2 linked regions of the Homo sapiens genome follow. The protein of the gene in region 2 binds, or shares a complex with, the protein of the main gene of each other region. Links are inferred from orthologs where the notes say so. Each region holds a gene or a part of one and is shown on either strand. Other genes may lie near its edges. The genes, in order: PLXNA4 and NRP1.

Region 1 (9,229 bases), on a different chromosome or scaffold from region 2:
CCGCTTTTAAATATAAATAACACTTAATCATCCAGCTGTCGTTAAATTCATGTTATATTGATTTCTTGGAGTGCCGCAAATTTGAGGGCGAATGGGCTGGCGGATGTGCGCACAAAGCCAAGAGGTAGATTAGCAAGTGGTGGGGGCAGAGAAGTGGGGGTTGGAGGAAAAGGAAGGGAGGTGTCAAGGGAGGGAAATGAACCTACTCAATAGCCCAGGGTCTGAGCCAGTTTCACATTGGGTAGCACTGGACACAAATAAGAAGAGAGGAGACGCTGGCACATCTGTTGCATAGTCTAATGAGAGCCAAGATCATGGTCGTGTTTTCTGTATTGCTGCCGCCCCCTTGTAACCCACCACAGAGCCGCTCCAACAGGTCTCTGATGTGCATTGTCTGCGTATGCCTTCTCTAGGTGAGGATGGGGAGAAGCAGCTAAGAAATGCCCCCTAGCTGGCTAGGAGGAGAGAGATCCACAGCGATTTCTCTGCATCAAAGCCTGATGATAACTATGAATCAAGAGTGGTTAATGACCCAGCCCCTTTAGCTCTCTCCCACTTCGGGACTGCTGCCATCCTAGAAAGCCCCCACTTCATTCCCAGCAGCCCTCATTGTGATGAAAAGGATCCCGAGGCCAAGTGTATGTAGGCAGACTCTGCCGTGCAGATTTCCCTGTCTGCAGGGAGTAGCAGCAGCAGGCGACAGGAAGGCACAGAGAAGGAGAAAGGAAACAAGTTGACTGCCTTGGAGTCCTCCAGAAATGTCTGCAGTGTCCCAGTGGGCATCCAGGAGGAAGTCCTGGGAGGACAGATGAGAGCCCGGGGAGGCGTGATTGGGTAAGAAGGAGCAGCTTGTAGGTGACCCATGCCTAGTGCTCACAGGAGAGCTGCCTTAAGCACCGTCTACCAGGCAGCGAGGGTCTGCTGAAAAGAAGCATTCATGGCTGGGGTTTTTCTAGTGTGACTCCCTTCCCAGTGAGAAAGACCTCAGAGAACTTAAAAGGAAGGGCACAGAAGAGTGGCAGAGAGGGTGAATGACAGCGTGGCATGCTCCAGGGCTGGGCAAGAGAGCCAGGAAAACGTAATGTATACTCCGCTTTACAGAGATGTTAATTAATGCCTGCCTTGTCCTAGAAACCAAATTGGTACCTAATGCTAAGTGCAGAAAGTGCAGAGATTTTCTGAACCCAGATGTTTAGCTTATAACCAGCATAATGATACTAGCTTTGCATTAAAATGATGGATCCTGAGGCTGCGAATACATGAGAAAGGAAAGAGGGTAGGGAGGAAAGCAGAGAAAGGAGTGGAGGTCTACAGGGAAGACACAGACATTTCAGGAAGATCCTGTACCCTATCCCTTTGCCTCTTCCAGGTCCCATGAGGGACTGTTTACCTGGGAGGCACCCACTGTTGCTGGAGCTCATTATTTCTTTTGCAAACCATGTGCTGCTGTACGCGTAGGTGGGATCTGCCTGTCCACGCCCTCAAGGGGCATGTGGGGAGAAATGTTCCATTTCTTCCACAGCCCGGAAGACAGAGGTGGACCCCATTGTCACACATGGCGGGGGCGGGGAGCTGACCACATTTAGCCAGACTCTGAGAACGCATGTGTGTATATATATTGGGTGTGTGTGTGCACACGCCCACCATTCTTAAAAAGCAAATAAGGTTTCTTCCCCCTACTGGGGTCTCTCCATTGTGAGAGATTTGCTTTATTCCATCTATGCTTTTCAATCAATCAAAGGGCAGCTCACACAGCACACAGCGGGAATACAATCTCCCTCCCGGGGTGTCTGCGCTTCTCCCCAGCCTAGCCAGAGACCTTTGCAGGAGCTGAAAAAAGTTTGGAAATAGCGGAGTCAGGGTGCTGAAAAAGCCCTTTCATTCAGCCCCTATCTTCAGGATTTACAAAAACAACCCAAATTCTGAGCCTAGCACTGAGGCCTCCTTGTTCAAAAGAATGTTTGCTCCTCTTCCATCATGTTCTGTAAGGCTCCTAACATATTTTTTCCACTGGTGGGTCTGTGGGATACTCTGAACACATGATCTTGGACAGAGGGTACAAGCTTATTCAGTTTTGTGGGAAAATGATATGATCATGTTGCCTAGAAAGCTACCTCAAAGTGACAGCACCAGAAACACAGGAGCTTGTACATATATATTCAATTCCGAATTTGATTTGGATCTCATGTTCTTCTCCCTATGACAACTGAGACCCTAAATTAGTTGCTCTTAGACCCCAAGAAGGGAACTATGGAAAAGCCTCTTAGAACCCCAGCCACTTCCTACCTCCTCCAGAAAAAGTTAAAATGAGCAGCCTGTGAAATTCCAGCCAGAGAGAACAAGAATGAAAATGCTTTCGGGAAATAGGACCTTAAAGCACGGGCGTCTGGGGAGTGATTCTACAATCGGAGCAGGCTTGGGCTCTGGGGGACGCTGGCAGACCCACGAATGCCTTGCCTTCTCCGGTGGGCAGTGCCGCCACGGTCGTGAGGGAGGGGAGCCTCCTCTTTTGGAGGACTATATCCCTCGTGCTTCCCCCTTCTAGTTCTCTTTCTCAGACACACACCACGAAAGGCATGTGACAGGTGTTCGCCAGCCGGAGGCACCGGGGAAGGCAGCCCCATGTGCCCAGGGAGGGTAGGGAGGTGAGAGGGGACCCAAGTCCTGTGTCTCCAAGTCCTGTCTGCTTGCTGCTAAGCAGGCACTGAGGCTGTGAATAAGGTCTTACCTTTTAAGGAGGATCTGACCCCCGTACCTTCCCTAGACAAGCAACATACGCGGCGATGCTTTAAGCCGCTTTCTGCCTGAAATCTCGGCGCATTCCCGGGGAAGCAGTGCCACGCTTCAGAAAGGCGTTTGTGCTGCCTCTTACTGGGGAAACGCAGTGTCTGTTTCATATGCGCCGCCCTACAGAACTGCAGCCCCAACCGCCTATCTGGCCTCCTCCCCGGGCGCTGGGCCACCACTCTCTCCAAATATGCGTCCGAATATCTGTGGGTCTGTCTCCCGTTGAAATCCCAGGGTGTCCAAAGGCCACGGGGCCGCGATGACACTGGGTAGGTCTCCGGAAACCTCTCAGGACTTCTCCCATTTTAAAGCCCAGCTAGGGACGAAAGGGGCTGGGAGCTGAAAAATTGCTCCCTCAACCTCCCCGGGTGGGAGGCAGAGCCGGGAATACACAGAATCCCACCCCGAAAGTCCCGGGAAAGAGAAGTCTGAGTCCAGGAGCGTGAGAGGAGAACACACCCGGGAAATCCCTGCTCCGGCCGCTGCACCTCCGCGGGCGTCCAGGTGGGACGTGGGCAGGTGCGCGAGCGCCGTGTGTGCCGGTGTGGATCTGTGTGTGTGCCTGCGTGTGTGCGTGTGCGTGTGCCGCGGGCTGGCTCCGGGACACTGAGGACTCCCGGGTCGGCCCAGGTCTGTCCGACCTTGCTGCCCTCGCCGCCCGCCCGGCCCCACTCCCCGGCGGGCCGGCTCCTTACCTGGACGCGCCGCGTTTCCCTCCTTCAGCGGGAGCGCCGCATTGACACTGCAGATGGAGCCTATGCCGCTGCCTCTCGCCCTCCTCTGAACGTGTGCGTGTGCGCGCGTGTGGCTGCCTCCTCCAGCCCCAGCCCCGAACGCAAATACTCCACCGAGGCACAGGGAAGCCGGGAGCAGCCGAGGAACGCGGAGGGCGCCGAATCAGAGCCTGCGGGGCTTGACAGCTTCTCTTGCGGCGTCCAAGGTGGGCGTAATGTCCAACAAAAAGGTCGGAAAATGGGGATCGATTCCGAACACCCCTTTCCTCCACCCAGCCCCGGAGCCCGAGCAGCGGCGGCGGCTCTCGGGGGCTGCGGTGGCGACGCCGGGCTGCCCCCCTTCGTCCCCACCCCCGCGGGCTGAATGTCCTTGATGCCAAGCGGGCACAGCGGCGTCACTCCGCGCCGCCCATGCTCGCCCGGTCGGGCCGCTGCCCGGGCGCGGCGAGTGCGCGGGGGACCCGCCGGGGAGCGCTCTCGGCGCCTCTGCGCGCCTCTCTGGGTAGCGGCGGCCGCCCCCCGGCAGCCCGCGGCCGGCCGCGCCGCGGCAGCCCCCACCCTTGCCGAGACACTCGCCGGGCAGTGCCCTGGGGCCGGGGCTGGGGGGCCGCGGGAGCCGCCGGCTGCTCCCCGGGGAGGCGCGGGGCTGCGGCGGTGGTGGCTGCGGCGGCTGGCGCTGCGGCGGCGGAGAGCTCGGCCGCGGGCCGAGCCGGGCCTCCCGGGCGCGCCCCCGGCCCCCCGGGCGGGCTGCTCGCAAAGTTTGCAGGGGGCAGGGAGCGGGGCCGCCGCTGGCTCGGCCGCCGCCGGAGCTCCCGGGCTGCCTGCTGCCGCCGCGGCTCGCTGCTGCTGTGCATTGAAGCCCGGCCAAGCGCTGCAAAAACTCCAGCTGCCTGGCGCTCTCTGGGTCCTCCTCTCCTCCCTCCCGCCCTCCCTGCTTCCCTTCCTCCCTCCCTCGCCTCGCCTCCTCTCCTCCCTGCCGCCCGCCGCCCGCCGCCGCTCCCTCTCTGGCTCGCTCTCGCTGGCTCGGAGCTCGCGGCTGACATCTAGAGCGAGGGAGAGCGGCCGGCAGAGGGGGCAGGGGGCGCCTCCCTACATGCTCCCACCCGCCGCCGCCCGGCTTGCCGGCTCTCCTCCGCACCAACGTTTGCCGACACCCCCCTGGGTCCCCTCGGCCCGCACGGAGCTACCCTGGCGGTGGCGATGTGGGGCGGAGAGAGGGGCATACATGGGTGACCGGAGCGCACGGCGCGCGCTCAGAGGGAGGCGCTCAGCCGCCTCGGAATTTGCAGCTCTGGGCGCTGGCCGTCGGAGGGACCCTCAGGTGCTCAGAGCTGACACAAGCGCACACTGACTCTGAGGCATACACCCATTGCTAGTCAGAACCCCTCCCAACACCCCACCAAGTCACCCCCACATGGCACCCAAGGAGGCCGAGGACACTGAGGGCACAAGGCCCGCACGAGAGAACATGAGTGGCCAGTGCCCCAGAGCTGGCTTGGTAACCTGACTTTTCCATTCATGTTTATACTGAGCGGCTCTCCTGGCTCCTCTCTTCTCTGAAACCCTAGATCCTAGACTACATCCAGAACAGACCATGCCAACATCAGGGTGGTTTCTGAAGCCCAAAGAAAGAAATCACCATGTAGCTCTGGTTTAGGCAGTGAAGATGGGGAGTGGGTGGCACTACCTCCCAAACCTCTGCCTAGATCCCCCTAGGAATGGGCCCACCCACCAAGAGAAACCGAAGGGATTCCCACACCTGTTAACTCAACTCTGTGCATGCCACCCTCATCCTCATACCCGCTCCCACCATAGTCTGAGGGAAGTGGCACCTTCAGCAGAGTCCAGTAAGCATTCCCTGGGATAGGCAACCAGCAAGGACGACCCTCTAAAGGAGCCCATGGCTCTTGGCCTCCTCTCTCCTGTCCCTTCTTTAGTTTTCACTGTCCTCACACCCAGAAACTCCCGCCCATTACTGTCCCTCCCATCGAAACATCTCAGAGCCTCCTTATTAGGTGGACATGACTGATAATGGCTTAAATGCCTATACCTCCCTATAGGGGTTATATTCTCACAGAAATCGAAGTTGTGTGAATTGGGGAGCCTTTGAAAGGAGCTGTGAGATGACAGCTTAAACAAGCCCCAAGGTGAGCGGCACATATAGGTCAGGCTTGGCCCACCCAGAGAGGACCCTGCTGAAACTTTGCTCTCACCAATGAGAAGATGAACCAAGCCAGAATGAGGAGGAAACCACATGTTTGATTCTTTGGTTAAAGGATATTCCAGGAGACAGCGTGGAGCCCTTTTAGTCTCTGGTTCTCTGCTGAGTCTTGCATGGCCCAGAAAGCAGCAAGGAGTTATCTTATTAAGCTTACATGAATACATTGATCTGACTCCACTCTTCCCAGAAACCCTGAATCCCAGACTCTAGATAAAGCACACAATATCAGGTTAGTTTCAGAAGTCCAGAGACACACATAACAAAATCACTCAATGCTACTGCCTCTTGAACATCCTTCCAGGGTGGAGGAAGCCCAGGGCCAAATGCCTCTCTCTGCAAGACTGGGATTAGCACAAGGCCAGCCGGGCACTGAGGATACAAAATCCAAGGAGGCCCTGTCACCCCAAGGTCCATGTAAGGTTTGCATCACCTGATCCTGACACTGCTTCTAGGTGTCCCTTTTAAAATTGCTGCATGGGTCCATCACGGCCCATTTCCAGAAGTGACAGCCCGGATAGCCCCATGAAAGTCCCTAATGGGTTACTTAAGGAATATCGTTCAATTAAAGGCGCGGGGGAGACTCCTTTCAAACTTCTGTTGGCCACTCAGCTTTCAGGGTATGTCATAAAATGCTGAAAGGAAGGGGGGAAGGTGAGAAAACAACTCTGTCTCAATTCTCAGTCATTCTAGCATGTATTTTTAATACAATCTGATTGTCTTTTTCCTCCTCATATCGGTTGTATTTGTGTGTGTGTGCGTGTGTGTGTGTGTGTGCGTGTGTGTGTGAATATGGCTTGAGTTCCAGGCCCATTTCCTGATGGATGGACGGGAAGTCAAAGACCTTTTTTTTTTTTTTTTTCCAGAGGTGGCAAATAAAATGTGTTTATTATTCTTTATCTCCTGCCTAGTGTGTGGTGTCATTTATTTTCATTCAAAGAAATGAATGCCATGTGGTGCCTGAAGAGTAATAACAGAGCCAAATGACAGGGAAGACACACAGCAAAAAGCTGGACCAGCCACGGGCAGGTGAGGGGCCCAGCGAGCTCTCCCGTTGTTAATGGGGCCAGGGGCCATATCTCAAATTGCCTTTCCCCGGTTGCCTTCCACTGAATAACACGGTAAAAGGCATACCAAAGGGGGCAGTTATCATATTATCGGAAGGAGGAGTAGAAAGGGTCAAATTAGCTGCAGTAGAGGATTTTTTTTTTTCAGTGATGACCCATTGGATTGACTCCCTTAAGTTAGGAGAATGGAATGGGGTGGGATGAGTAGGGCCTCTACATTGGAAGTTAGAAAACACATGTCCTACTCCTGGCTCTGTCATTGGCCAGCTTTACAATTTGGAGCGGGTCACGTCCTCTCAATGATACCTCATCTCTCACCTGACACATTCGCCCCTTAGAGTTGCAATGACATTCAAAGGACATACCATCTTATTAATGTGCTTTGAAACTCTAAGGTAGGTACAAAACACATGTAGGGAATTAGAGTCGCTTTCCAGATGAATGTATCTTTTTATTTTTTTCAAATAGAATGATACAATGAGGGTAGGCCTTCTGCTATCTTGTCCCCACCCCAAGAATAAATACACAGGCAAAAGCAGCATCTTACCACAGTTCAAAATGTGTTTCTGCATTAGGTACAAGATCTTCTGGCTCTCACACCTCCTCTACCCCCTCTCCCTTGGTGAGGGCTAAGGGAGACACAAGTAGGACCATCTAGGTGTCCCCTACTGACAATGGCTCTGTGAGTCACTCCCTCTACCTCTTGCCTGGTCGTGAAACTGGTTATGTCATTGTCTGGACCCATGGCCACAAGAGGGAGAAGCTAAATGGCACATTGCTTCAGAGAGTCCTGTTTTCTAAAGAAGCTATGTCTGTGGGACTTGGGTTGGGGTTTATTGCTGGGTTTAGACAGAAAAAGTATTGGTTCATCTCCCACAGCTGAATAAAAGGACCAGTTTAATAGGAAAGAGGAGAAGAAACTCTTAAGTTTCCCCTCACTTAGCTACCACCATTTTATTAGCCTAGGAACAGTGCTGCTATTTAAGTTGATAAAAGCCAGATTTGCTCGTTAAATAAATCACCAGAGCCTGGTGGTGCTAGAGAGACATTTTCTTTCCCCCAAGAGCTGCCCCCATGGCTGGGTCTTGTACCTTGCACTGGATAGAAAAACCACAGGCAGGCAGTCAGCAGCTTAAAAACCTAAATTGTGGCGCCACCTGCAGGACAGCAGGAATATCATCAGTATCCCACAGCTCAGCAGAGGAGGCAAGAGGAGCCTTCCGCAGTGACACAGGTGAGGCCAGGGTGCCCTCTGGCCCCTGCTTTCTGCATGTGTCACCACATGTCCACAGCACACTCCAGCAGCCTTTAATCTGCATCCTCCTTGAATGCTGCCATTTCGAGGGATGGGCAGCAGCTCTCAAGATTCTCAGTCCATTCAAACTAACTTATTCTTCCATCTGTCTCCTAAGGGACTAAGTGGACCTCTAAGCCAAGGGTTCTGTCTTCAAGACTGGACCATGGAACAGTAAAACAGAAAGGAGAAGTGACTGCCTTTCAAGGAAGATGAGGGGAGGAACATCCTTGTGTCACCACAGGGCCTACTAGTAAGTTGAACTTGGTGGCTGGGTATTCTCAGTAGACCCAACTGTTCCAGGCTTCCCTAGCATGTGGGTGCAAATCAGCACAGAGATATTAACATCCGAATTTCAACTCCCAGCCTTTTCTGCTCAGATAAAACTTTGGCCACCACTGAAAAACCCCTCCCTGTCTCCTCCCATTATGTCAGAGACCGCCACTGGTGGGTGTGCTTAGGAACAAGTCTGACCATTTCATTCACCACAAGTACCCTCTTGGAAATCCACTGCCCATGAGCCATTTGATGGAAGGACATCTCTGCATTGCCAGCTCTGTGGTTGCCCTCTGCAAGGGCACCTCCACCCGGCTGCACTGCTGGACATGGCAAGCTCTGCTGCCGTGCCATGGCTTTCCAAGCCACACCGGGGGGTTGGTGTTTAGGTGGGGAGGACACCCCTCTCCTCCTACACACACACACACACACTGTGGATCTTGATCCTCTGGGCACCAAAATAACTCCCATGCCTCCCATGGTCCAAGTCTTACTCCCCTTCCTCCCCAGACCCTTTCATCCACTGCCCCCTCTCCAGAATGCTTCCTTCTCTTTCAACTAACAAAAACAACAAACAAACAAACAAACAAAACTTGTCTTTTTAACCGCAGAAACCAGAAGTTAGAGGATATTGTGAGGTAAGGGGAGATGGAGGGAGGGAGGGGGTGTGACTTAACTCCATTGGCCAGAAAGAAGAGAGTCCCAGATCTGGCCAGAGCCATGTCTTGCTACAACAAGAAAGGAGAAATACCTCAGTGTAACCCTTCTTGGGGTTAAGTCCTGGGAGGCACAAGGTCCCGTAGTATGCCTGCATTACAAGGACTGGATACAATTCACGTCTCCCACATGGCAC
Region 2 (9,049 bases):
TTCAAGCTTGGAGATCGGATCAAAGCAACGGGGCAGAAGGAAAAGTAAATAGCCACATGGCATTAATTCTAATTACCTAAATGTTGGGTGAAAAATAACCCACCACACAGGTCTGGGTATCACATATGGTAACCCACATTCTCACATTCTGGGAAAGGTGAGCTAAGTAGTTTTGAGCCTTCATTTCAAAAATGCTCAAGTGAAGCCAAATAAACCAAGTAAACCAGTCTCTGGGCTGCCTATATTGTTCAGCATAGATTCTCATTGTCACATTTTATGATGGATTTCATACTGGAGCACCTCAGCCTGAAATGCTGCCACATTTATTGATGCTTAATTTTGAGCAATAAAAATTCGGTGCATAAACTATATAAGAGAAACGGTATGAAAACAGTGAAATATATAAGCCTATCAATCACAAATTTTCAGTAATGGTAGATGTAGATTTTAACACTGCATCTAATAGATTCCCTGTGGAAAGAGAATGGCATTCTTTGCTCTCAGCATGAATTTATAAATCTACAGAATTTTATTACAGGAAAACCAGGTCAAATGGAAATGAAAGATGAAGTGCACATCAAAAATGCATAAAGCTACATGCATTACAGAAATCATTTCCCATAAATTAAAAAAAGAAGACAATATAAGTTATATTGTTTTTCTCAATCGCTAGGTGCTTCTGACTTTGTTCCTTAGACTGGGGGTAGTCTTATGCTGGTTTCCTTTGCACTGGCTTGTAAAAGTGTAAGCTTTGCCAGGAAGAAATGATGTTGCAACTGGAGTTCAAAATCTCAGCTAATGATCATGTTGGACTCTGTTATGTGATTCTGCTGAGACTCTTGCATTATTTTGAATGTGCAGAAAACTTGGAAAGTGACCTCGTCTCATTAAGTTTCCTCTAGCTCTGGACAAACATCATGGTAGTGTCTGGCATCTGTTACAGGAGTGAAATAAAACAGCACTGGTTCTAGTCACTCGACAGAGTCACTTCAGAAGACATTTAGGTGGACTTGGTACCACACCAGAGCTCTTTAATCTGTGACTTCTGAGAAAGTGACAGTGTAATAAGATAATGTGGACTGCTAGACTCCCTGGCTCTGTTCAATCTCTCTAGCAGTTGATTAAGAAAGAGCAGTTTCTAATGACTCTGGACCATTAGTCCTAAATAAGGTTAATGAATTAATTTAGCAGACACTGGTTACTCAGAGGAGGTGGACATGGCTTTGAGAGGTCTGCTGAGTTACAGAGGCATTTTCTGGCTCTGGTCACTTCAAGCATAGCGACATGGCTTTTGCTGGTAAAGCTCAACAACTAAAGCCAGATTTTCAGCATTCCCCAGATTTCTGCTAAGAAAACTAAGAAGTGTGTGTGTGTGTGTGTGTACTGCATATATATTTGTGTAGTTCACAACCTAAAGTCTGATAGCTCTTTGCATTGAGCTTCAAATCTATCTTGTGAACACCCCCACTATGGATTTAGTCTCAAGAGTTGTGGAGGACAGGGTTACTATAATTTCTAGTCCAACCATTTGAGCTCTTTCAGTTGGACGAGAATGCTATTTCATTCCCTGCCAGAGTATAGAAAGATGCTACCAGCTCAGGTTCATTAATAAATTGAATTCTACATTCATAATTTTTTGTGTCTTGCTTTCCTGCCAGATTATAGAAAAATGCCATCAACTTGGGCTCATTAATAAGCTGAATTCCATGTTCATAATTTTTTTTTTTGCATGTGTTTTGCTTTAAGCATCTCTTAAAATACTGCTTGGTAGCTGCTGAGGGAAATCCATTGCTAAAATCACAAAACCTTGAAAAAGCATATTAGAGAGATTAACTTCCATCATAAAGATGTGATTTAAATTCCTGTTGGTATGAGGCCCTCCACTTGCGGTCTCTTATTAAAACAATATACCACAGTAAGTAGTGGATGTTCTTTTCTTCTAATTACTGTGATTGAAATCTAAGCCAGACAAAAGTAAATATTTGATCATTAGTTAATAACAATTGCTGACGACTTACTGTAAAGATAATTGCATACCCTTGCCTGCACTTACTTTACAGTGTGAAGTCAAACATGCCTACAACCAGATCCCATTTTAAAACACATTATTTAGGTTACATGGTACTGTTTAGACCCCAGTATAGTTTTTCATTTACTTAACAGTGAGTGATTTTAAAAGCTAAGTGGAAGCTGCAACTAGCTTAGGGATTTTCAGATATCCTGGTGCCTTACACTGTATATGTCAGATTCCTGTATTGATACTATGTAACTTTCAGTCATACTCCAGACAGATTACGGAAGGTGTACAAAGGCGGGGGAGGGAGTTTCATCAACCCACAAACCGATATCTCTGGCCGTCACCCACCAGAGGAAACGGCTTAGGGGAGCAGCAAAGGAACCAGGAAGTAAGATCTCCTGGTAAAGTGTTCATTAACTTTCAACAGCCATCAGATTTTTGAAAGGGAGTCTCTTCTAATTGCCTTTGGGAGGAAACATTATTAAGATAATTGGCATGCTGATCTGGGAAGGTAGACAGCTCTGTCTTGTAACAGAGGTAAGGAAAAGCCCCACAGCCCAAGGATCAACGTCAGGAGGGAGCCCAAAGACCTGAAATCCTCCTGCTCTAAACCGCCTGATCTCATTTCTTCTTCTCTCCTCCCAGATAAAAGTTTCCTTCGCCCGGGAGTCGGTTGTTCCCGGCTGATCCCGGGAAGCCCCGCCTGAGCCCCGGTCCGGGGCGGGCAGCTGGGAGCCGGGGCGCCGCTGTCACCCGCGCCTCTGCCTGTCACTTACCGTTGCGAAAAGCGCCGGCCGGGGCGAGGACGAGGGCGAGCACGGCGCAGAGGAGCGGCAGCCCCCTCTCCATTCTCCCTTCTCCGGGTCCGCAGGCAGACGCGGGAGAACGAGGACGTGGGGGGAAATGCAGCAAAGAGGAGAATCTAAGCGATCCGAAGAGCCCCAACTCCGCCTAGAGCTGTACAATCCTCAGCCCGTCTTGGAGAAAAGAAAGCAGCGAGGCAATGCCTGGATCCGAGAGGAACGCTTCTCTTTTTGTGTCTCAAGTCGCCTGCATCCTGTCATTTAGCTCCGGCTTCCTCTCCCTTTTCCCACACTTGTTCCTCTTCCAGGAGCCACTGCCCGGGCCATGTCTCAAAAAAAAAAAAAAAAAAAAAAAAGGCCGGGGGGGGGCTGTGGGTGGGAGGGGGAGGAGGGAGGTAGGGCAACACACACCAAAGCCAATTTCCAGGAAGAAAAAAAAAAAATCCGGCTTGTTTCTGGACCCGTTGGAGCCGCGGAGCTGGCGCCCAGGGGAGGTCCGGGTGTCTGCGGGAAGGAGGGGAACGAGCAATGAAAAGATGAGCGGGAGACAGAGGAGTTTCACCAACTGCACCCCCGCCTCCCCTCCTGCGGCCTCCCCCCACTCCGGAGCCCTTCCCTCGCTTCCTCCCGCCCCTCTCCCCGCTTGGGCTCGCCTGTAATTGCCTGACAGGAGACTGGGAGGAACAACTTTCCCTCCGAGTGCTCTCCCCGTCCGTCTGTCTGTCTTTCCCAGAGACCCTGCAGGGATCTCCGCGGGAAGGAAGGCGCTGGGAGTCTGCGCCCCGGTCGCGTGGGTGCGGGCGTCGGAGGAAGGGGCGCGGAGGTCAGTGCCAGCCGCAGGGTCTGGCCAGCCCACCTCGCGTGCTCGCTCTGCACCCCTAGAGGGAGAGCTGGGCAGCTCCTGCAGGCGCAGATCCCGCCGCCGCGCAGTGCGGAGCGCCCGGGAGGTGGCGGCTGCTTCTCGCAACTTCAAATCCCGGGGCCCGCGCCCTCGGCGGCGAGGAACGCAGGGTCACCCCCTGCCACTCCTCATCGCGCCATCCTGAGACCTGTGGCGGGGAGCAGCGGGGCACCCCTGGACGCCCCTGCCCAGAGCTGGAGGGCGAGGAGGGGAAAGCCGGGCTGGAGTGGGAGCCGCACCGCGAAGCCGGGCGAGGGGCAGCAGTGTCGCTGTGGTGTGAAGCGAAGACAGACCGCCTGGGCGGGCGAGGCCGGGCTGCAGCCCCACGCGGCCTCCCTGGCCCGCATCAGGGCGCGCGGCTGGGTGCCCTCTGCGCGCCGCGGAGGCTTCATTGTTTCCCGAGATTTGGTGCCCGTTCCTCTGGGGCAGAGGGAACACCGGAGGGTGGGAGGTGCTGCGCCTTCCAAGCAGGGGGGCAATCGCCGCCCGACCCCGCCCAACCTTGTCTGGGAGCCCAGGTGCTAGGGAGGGGTGTGGAAATCAGGGGTCGGGCGGCCCCCGTTTCTCTGTGCATCCCGAGGGAGGGAAAGAGTGGCGGGGGAGGGGTGCTCTTCGCTGCGCCCTCTCAGTGTCCGCTCCCGGCCACAGACAACGTGCACGCCGGCCCTGGAGCTCCTGCCACCCCCACTTCCCACAGCGGCTCGTGCCCCCAGCCCGCTGGATGCCCCCCAGGCCCGTCCCCGAGGGTTTTCCGAGAAGTGCTGCAGGAAGCGTTTGTAGATGCGAAAAGCAAGGACATTTCTGGGAAGAAACAGGTTGCGGTCACCGATCAGGCCCCGGAGAAGGGTCAGTGCCCACGGGGCACCTCCCAGGGAGTTTGTGGGTAAGGTGAAAAGGTCACACGCCTCCTGGGGATTGGCGTCTACACACACAGCCAAAGTACAGCCTGATTCCTACCTGGCACAAATAGCTGGCCAAAGGGAGGTAGGAATGCTGGCAAGGAGACTCTGGTCAAAGGTTTTGGCGGAAGAAAAAGGGGCGGGCAGGGAGAAAGCCCAAGGCGCGCGGGCCCCAGGCCAGGACTGCGCGCTCGCGACTCGGGCTGGGAGCAGTGACGTGCGCCCCTCGGGGTGCAGGCCGTTCCCGGGCCAGTGGGAGGTGCACCCACGGAGCCCGCACTCGCCACTCTCTTGCCCCGGGTCAAGCCTGTCTTCTCCTCCCCACGCGCCTCGGGATTCCCAGTCGCCAAGTTGGAAACTCGGCCCCCCCGAGCGCCTCTTTCCTCTGCCAGTTTCCTCCTTCTTCTCAGCTGTCGGACCCCTGGGAGGCGCGGGGTGGGAAGTGGGCACCGAAGGGCTGGGAGTTAAATGCCTAAGTTGAGCGGAAGGAGCACTGTCGAAGCCATGGGCAGCCCTGCGCCCGGGCAGGCGGGCAGGCGGGAGGCGAGGCGGGGGCGCCGACCGCGCCCAGCGCAGACCCCGGGGGAGTGAGCGCCGCAGAGGCAGCCTGGGCTCTCGGCTACTACCCGCGCGCGGTCGCCGCCTCCCCAGGTGCAGCCCCGCCAGTCCCAGCCCCCGGCTGCGCCGGGCGAGCGGCATCATCAGATTTAGGGTGACCCGGAGCGACCTCGGTCCAGGCTCGGAGGGAGAGGCGCCTCTCAGGACCTGGCAGGTTGACAGGGAAGGGGAACCGGGAGGGAGCGGCGGCCGGGGCGGCCTGGAGTCTCGGAGGCCCGCCTGCGTCCTGGGGGGACCCGACCTCCGCGCTCGCTCCGGAGCGCCCGTTTGGATAGCTCTGAGCCTCGGCGGGGTGAGCGAGGGGGCACACGAGGGAGACTTGAGCTGTGTTGTTTTTAGAAAACTGCCGCCAATCTCTCTTCCCCTTTCCCTGCTGAGTGTGCATTTTCCAGCCTAGACCCGCCAGGCCAGCAAATAAAGCCACCGGATCGTGCACTCCGGAGCGACTGCCCCCACCCCGACCTTGTCTTTCCCGAAGGGAATGGCTCCTCCGGCGCCTCAACGCACAGAAAACGCCTGCCTCCAGCTGAGCGCTTTTGCCAGCTTTCTCCAACCAGTGAATAAGGGATGCACTATGGACTCAGAAGGAAATGTCATATTTAAGTTCTGCCTCTGATTTCTCTGCTCTTAGCTGATCTAAGGTTTTTCTAGACTCCTTAGTTTCCACTCACAGTGCTGGGTAATGGAGCCCTACCGCACTGATTGAGAATTGCCGGCCAGTGGGTTGGTACAGAGCAAATTGTCCTTGCTAACAACCTTTTTCCTTTGCTGTTGGATTCCACTAAGTGGTGAGAGGGGTCAGTTTTAGATTTTTGCAATTCCCCAGCGTGGAGACAGGCCGGCTCTATACGAGAATAAGTGATAGGCAGAGGAAGAATTTGGCAGTGTTCCCGGGTTGATTTTATTTTGGTCTCTTGAACACATTATTCTTCCTGATAGAACAAATCCCTGGACTTGGTAGGACCCAGTTCCAGGGAAGGGAAGAGTCCTCTACCGCACCCCCAGAACGCCCTGCAGAGGCTGTGAGTGGGCAAAGCCCAGTTTCCTGGACTCCCACTTAGGAGGTGCTGCAGAAATAAGGCCTTCAGCTGGGGCTCCCTGAGTCGGATTGGAACCGTGGCCCATCAGTAAGAGTAGACTGGATGGTAACTGCTCGATTCCTTTCATCAAGCTCTCATCCCTTTGTCAGAAATAGATGAAATCGATTGCTCCCAGAAGGCCATTTGAGCCACTAACTCCCTCAAAGTACTTCAGATTCATGCAATATGGAGATTCGGGTTGGTAGTTCAAACTGCATCATATCTAGTCAAGTTTTTTGAAAACATCAAACCCATAAATTTCAGAAAAGCAATACAAGCTCCATATTTTTAGTAGGAGCTAACCTAGTTTTGAGATGTATGAATAGATGAAGTGAAACTGGAAAAACATTAAAAGTTGGAATTTTAATTAACTAATGTTTAAAATAAGCCTATTAGTGGTTATTCTGTCAAGTGACTGTGTCATGCAAGAGGTGTCATCTGGGCCTCATTTTTGGCCATCTCCTTGATTTGTACTGACAGAGAAGGAAGGAAATAAACAAATGAATCTTCACTTTCTGATTCTACCTTTTTAGCCTTTTAAAAGTTACCTTGAAAATTCCTCAAATATTGGAGAAACGACTACCAACTAAAACGTTAACACAAAGTTACAATGTGAAGTTTTTGTGATACAGTATATTTACTAACCAACAAGATGAAGAAAGATAATGCTAAATTTTGAATCACACTAGATTCAAAACATTTGCTAGAGTAGAGGTTACAGCCATATTTGAAAACTGTATTATTTTTCTGAGATAATAATATTAAATGATTTTGCCTTCATTGGATTACTTTTAAATTGGGAAAATTAAAATAATTATAACCAACAGAAACACTCTTCAAATCAATAGAGACATCATTAGAGAGAACATATTCAAAATTTGAAAGGACTGTTTTAAATAGGGCAATCTTTAAAATATAATTTGAACAACCAGAATAGAAAACTGGCTGCCTCTTAATATTTAATCATAGTTTTATGTAAATAGCTAAAATTTTAAATCAATAAAAAATAATTTTTAAAAATATCAAACAATGGCCACAACAGTTAAGAATTGTTGAATTTATTCTCAAAGGATGTAATTTCATTTTGCATTTTTATTAGATGACTCTGGCAGTTGCCTGTAGAATGGGTTATGGGCGGAGCAAGGGAAGAAATGAAGAGACCAGTTTTGAAGTAACCATAGTAGAATCTAAAGGAGAACTTCAACAAGGATCTGGCGGTGGAGATTGGAAAAGGATGCTTTCCAGATGTATTGAGAAAGTCCAACTGGACAGATGGTGGTGGATAAGCCAATGAAGGAGAGGGTGTTACCAAAGATTCAGGCCCTCATCACTGATGGGTGCGATTGCCTTCATGTAAGCAAAGGGACACTAGCAAAAGGCTAATTTGGAAGGAAGATCATGAATTTGATTGGGGTTAGGTACAGTTTCTGGTGTCTTTGAGGCAATCAAATGAGTTAGGAATTCAGAGGAGATGTTTGGATTGGAGATTTTAAGTTTGTGAGTCACTGACATGTAGATGATGGCAATCAAAGTGGAAGGAATGGATAAAATTGCTGAGGAAATTTCAGGAGACCCAGGATAGGAAGTTAAGGACCCTTTAAAGCCTGGATTGTCACAGTGAGCTAACAAAATACCTTGAGAATGAGCAGCTGGGTGGTAGGTGGAAAACCAGGAGAGCCTATTGTCATAAAAGTCAAGGAGAGGGGGAATTTCTAAAAGGAAGCTCTGGACAAGAGTGGAACACCATCAAGAGTTCCACTCGGATGAGGACTGGAATGCAATTGGACTTAGTGGTATCATGGTTACTGAGAATTGACTCTTCCAAGAGTCATTCAGTGGAGCGATGGAGGAACAGGACTAGAGGTCAGATTGCAATGGGCTGAAGAGTCAATAGAAGGTAAAGAAAGAGAGAGAACACATAAAGATAAAATTCTCTCTGGAAGTTTCTACTAAAGGGGAGGAGACAGACGATAGCTCTGGAAGGAGGAGATGTGGAGGGAGGTTGACTTTTTATTTTATTTTATGTTTGCTTTTAAGATAGGGTACTTGTGAACATTCTTGAATGCCAATGGATAGAATCCAGTATTGGGGGATATGTTGAGATTAAACTACTGAAAAGATAATCCGGGTGTTGATTGCCTGGGAAGGCAGGAAGGGATACAATCTACAGCCCAGATGGACAGATTTACCGTAAGTTGGAAGAGGGACAGCTCCTCTGTTATAGCAGTGGGGAAAGAGGAGCTGATGGGTGTGATTACAAGAAGGTTTGTCATTTCAGTGGGTGGGTGTGGGGGGCAATTTCTCTCTACTCTGGTTTTCTCTGTGAAGTAAGTCGTACCTTTGAGTAAGAATGACAGTGGAGGAGAGGAGCCGAAAGTGCCTGGAGAGCAGAAAAAAATTGACGGGGACGACTAAGCTGACCAGAGAAGCTGTTGTTATCATGTTATTGTTTTGATAATTTCGTAAGTTAAAAATTTGAGCTGGGAGCACATTTTCTATGGAAGGCATTCTCCTAGAAAAATTGGCTAGTTTTTCATGAAACTCAAAAAAATCTGCTTAACTCACAAGGAAGTAGTAATATAATATGAATGGTATTCTTTCAGCTTTAGTGACTCAAAGTAGGTGTTCTATAAATGTTCTTTTTTAAAAAGAAAATTTTCCAACCATTATTTACAGCACATTAAGGAATGTGTCTATTGATGGGTAGGAAAAGTTTCCCCCCAACCAAATAA

The links.
Region 1: the proteins of NRP1 (region 2) and PLXNA4 are in contact, whole or in part, in a cryo-EM structure (PDB 7M0R), measured with the Mus musculus proteins. The link is inferred for Homo sapiens from one-to-one orthologs. Residues at the interface, in NP_032763.2 of Mus musculus: Arg80, Tyr84, Asp126, Tyr127, Glu128; in NP_786926.2 of Mus musculus: Glu272, Lys340, Lys343, Lys345, Leu349.

What each region holds. Positions count from the first base shown.
Region 1 is NC_000007.14:132,572,940-132,582,168, forward strand, and holds the start of PLXNA4 (plexin-A4 isoform 1 precursor), read right to left. Parts: upstream 3,532-9,229; 5' UTR 3,483-3,531; intron 1-3,482. UniProt on the Homo sapiens protein: Coreceptor for SEMA3A. Necessary for signaling by class 3 semaphorins and subsequent remodeling of the cytoskeleton. Plays a role in axon guidance in the developing nervous system. Class 3 semaphorins bind to a complex composed of a neuropilin and a plexin.
Region 2 is NC_000010.11:33,331,517-33,340,565, forward strand, and holds the start of NRP1 (neuropilin-1 isoform a precursor), read right to left. Parts: upstream 3,152-9,049; 5' UTR 2,867-3,151; coding exon 2,794-2,866; intron 1-2,793. UniProt on the Homo sapiens protein: Cell-surface receptor involved in the development of the cardiovascular system, in angiogenesis, in the formation of certain neuronal circuits and in organogenesis outside the nervous system. Mediates the chemorepulsant activity of semaphorins.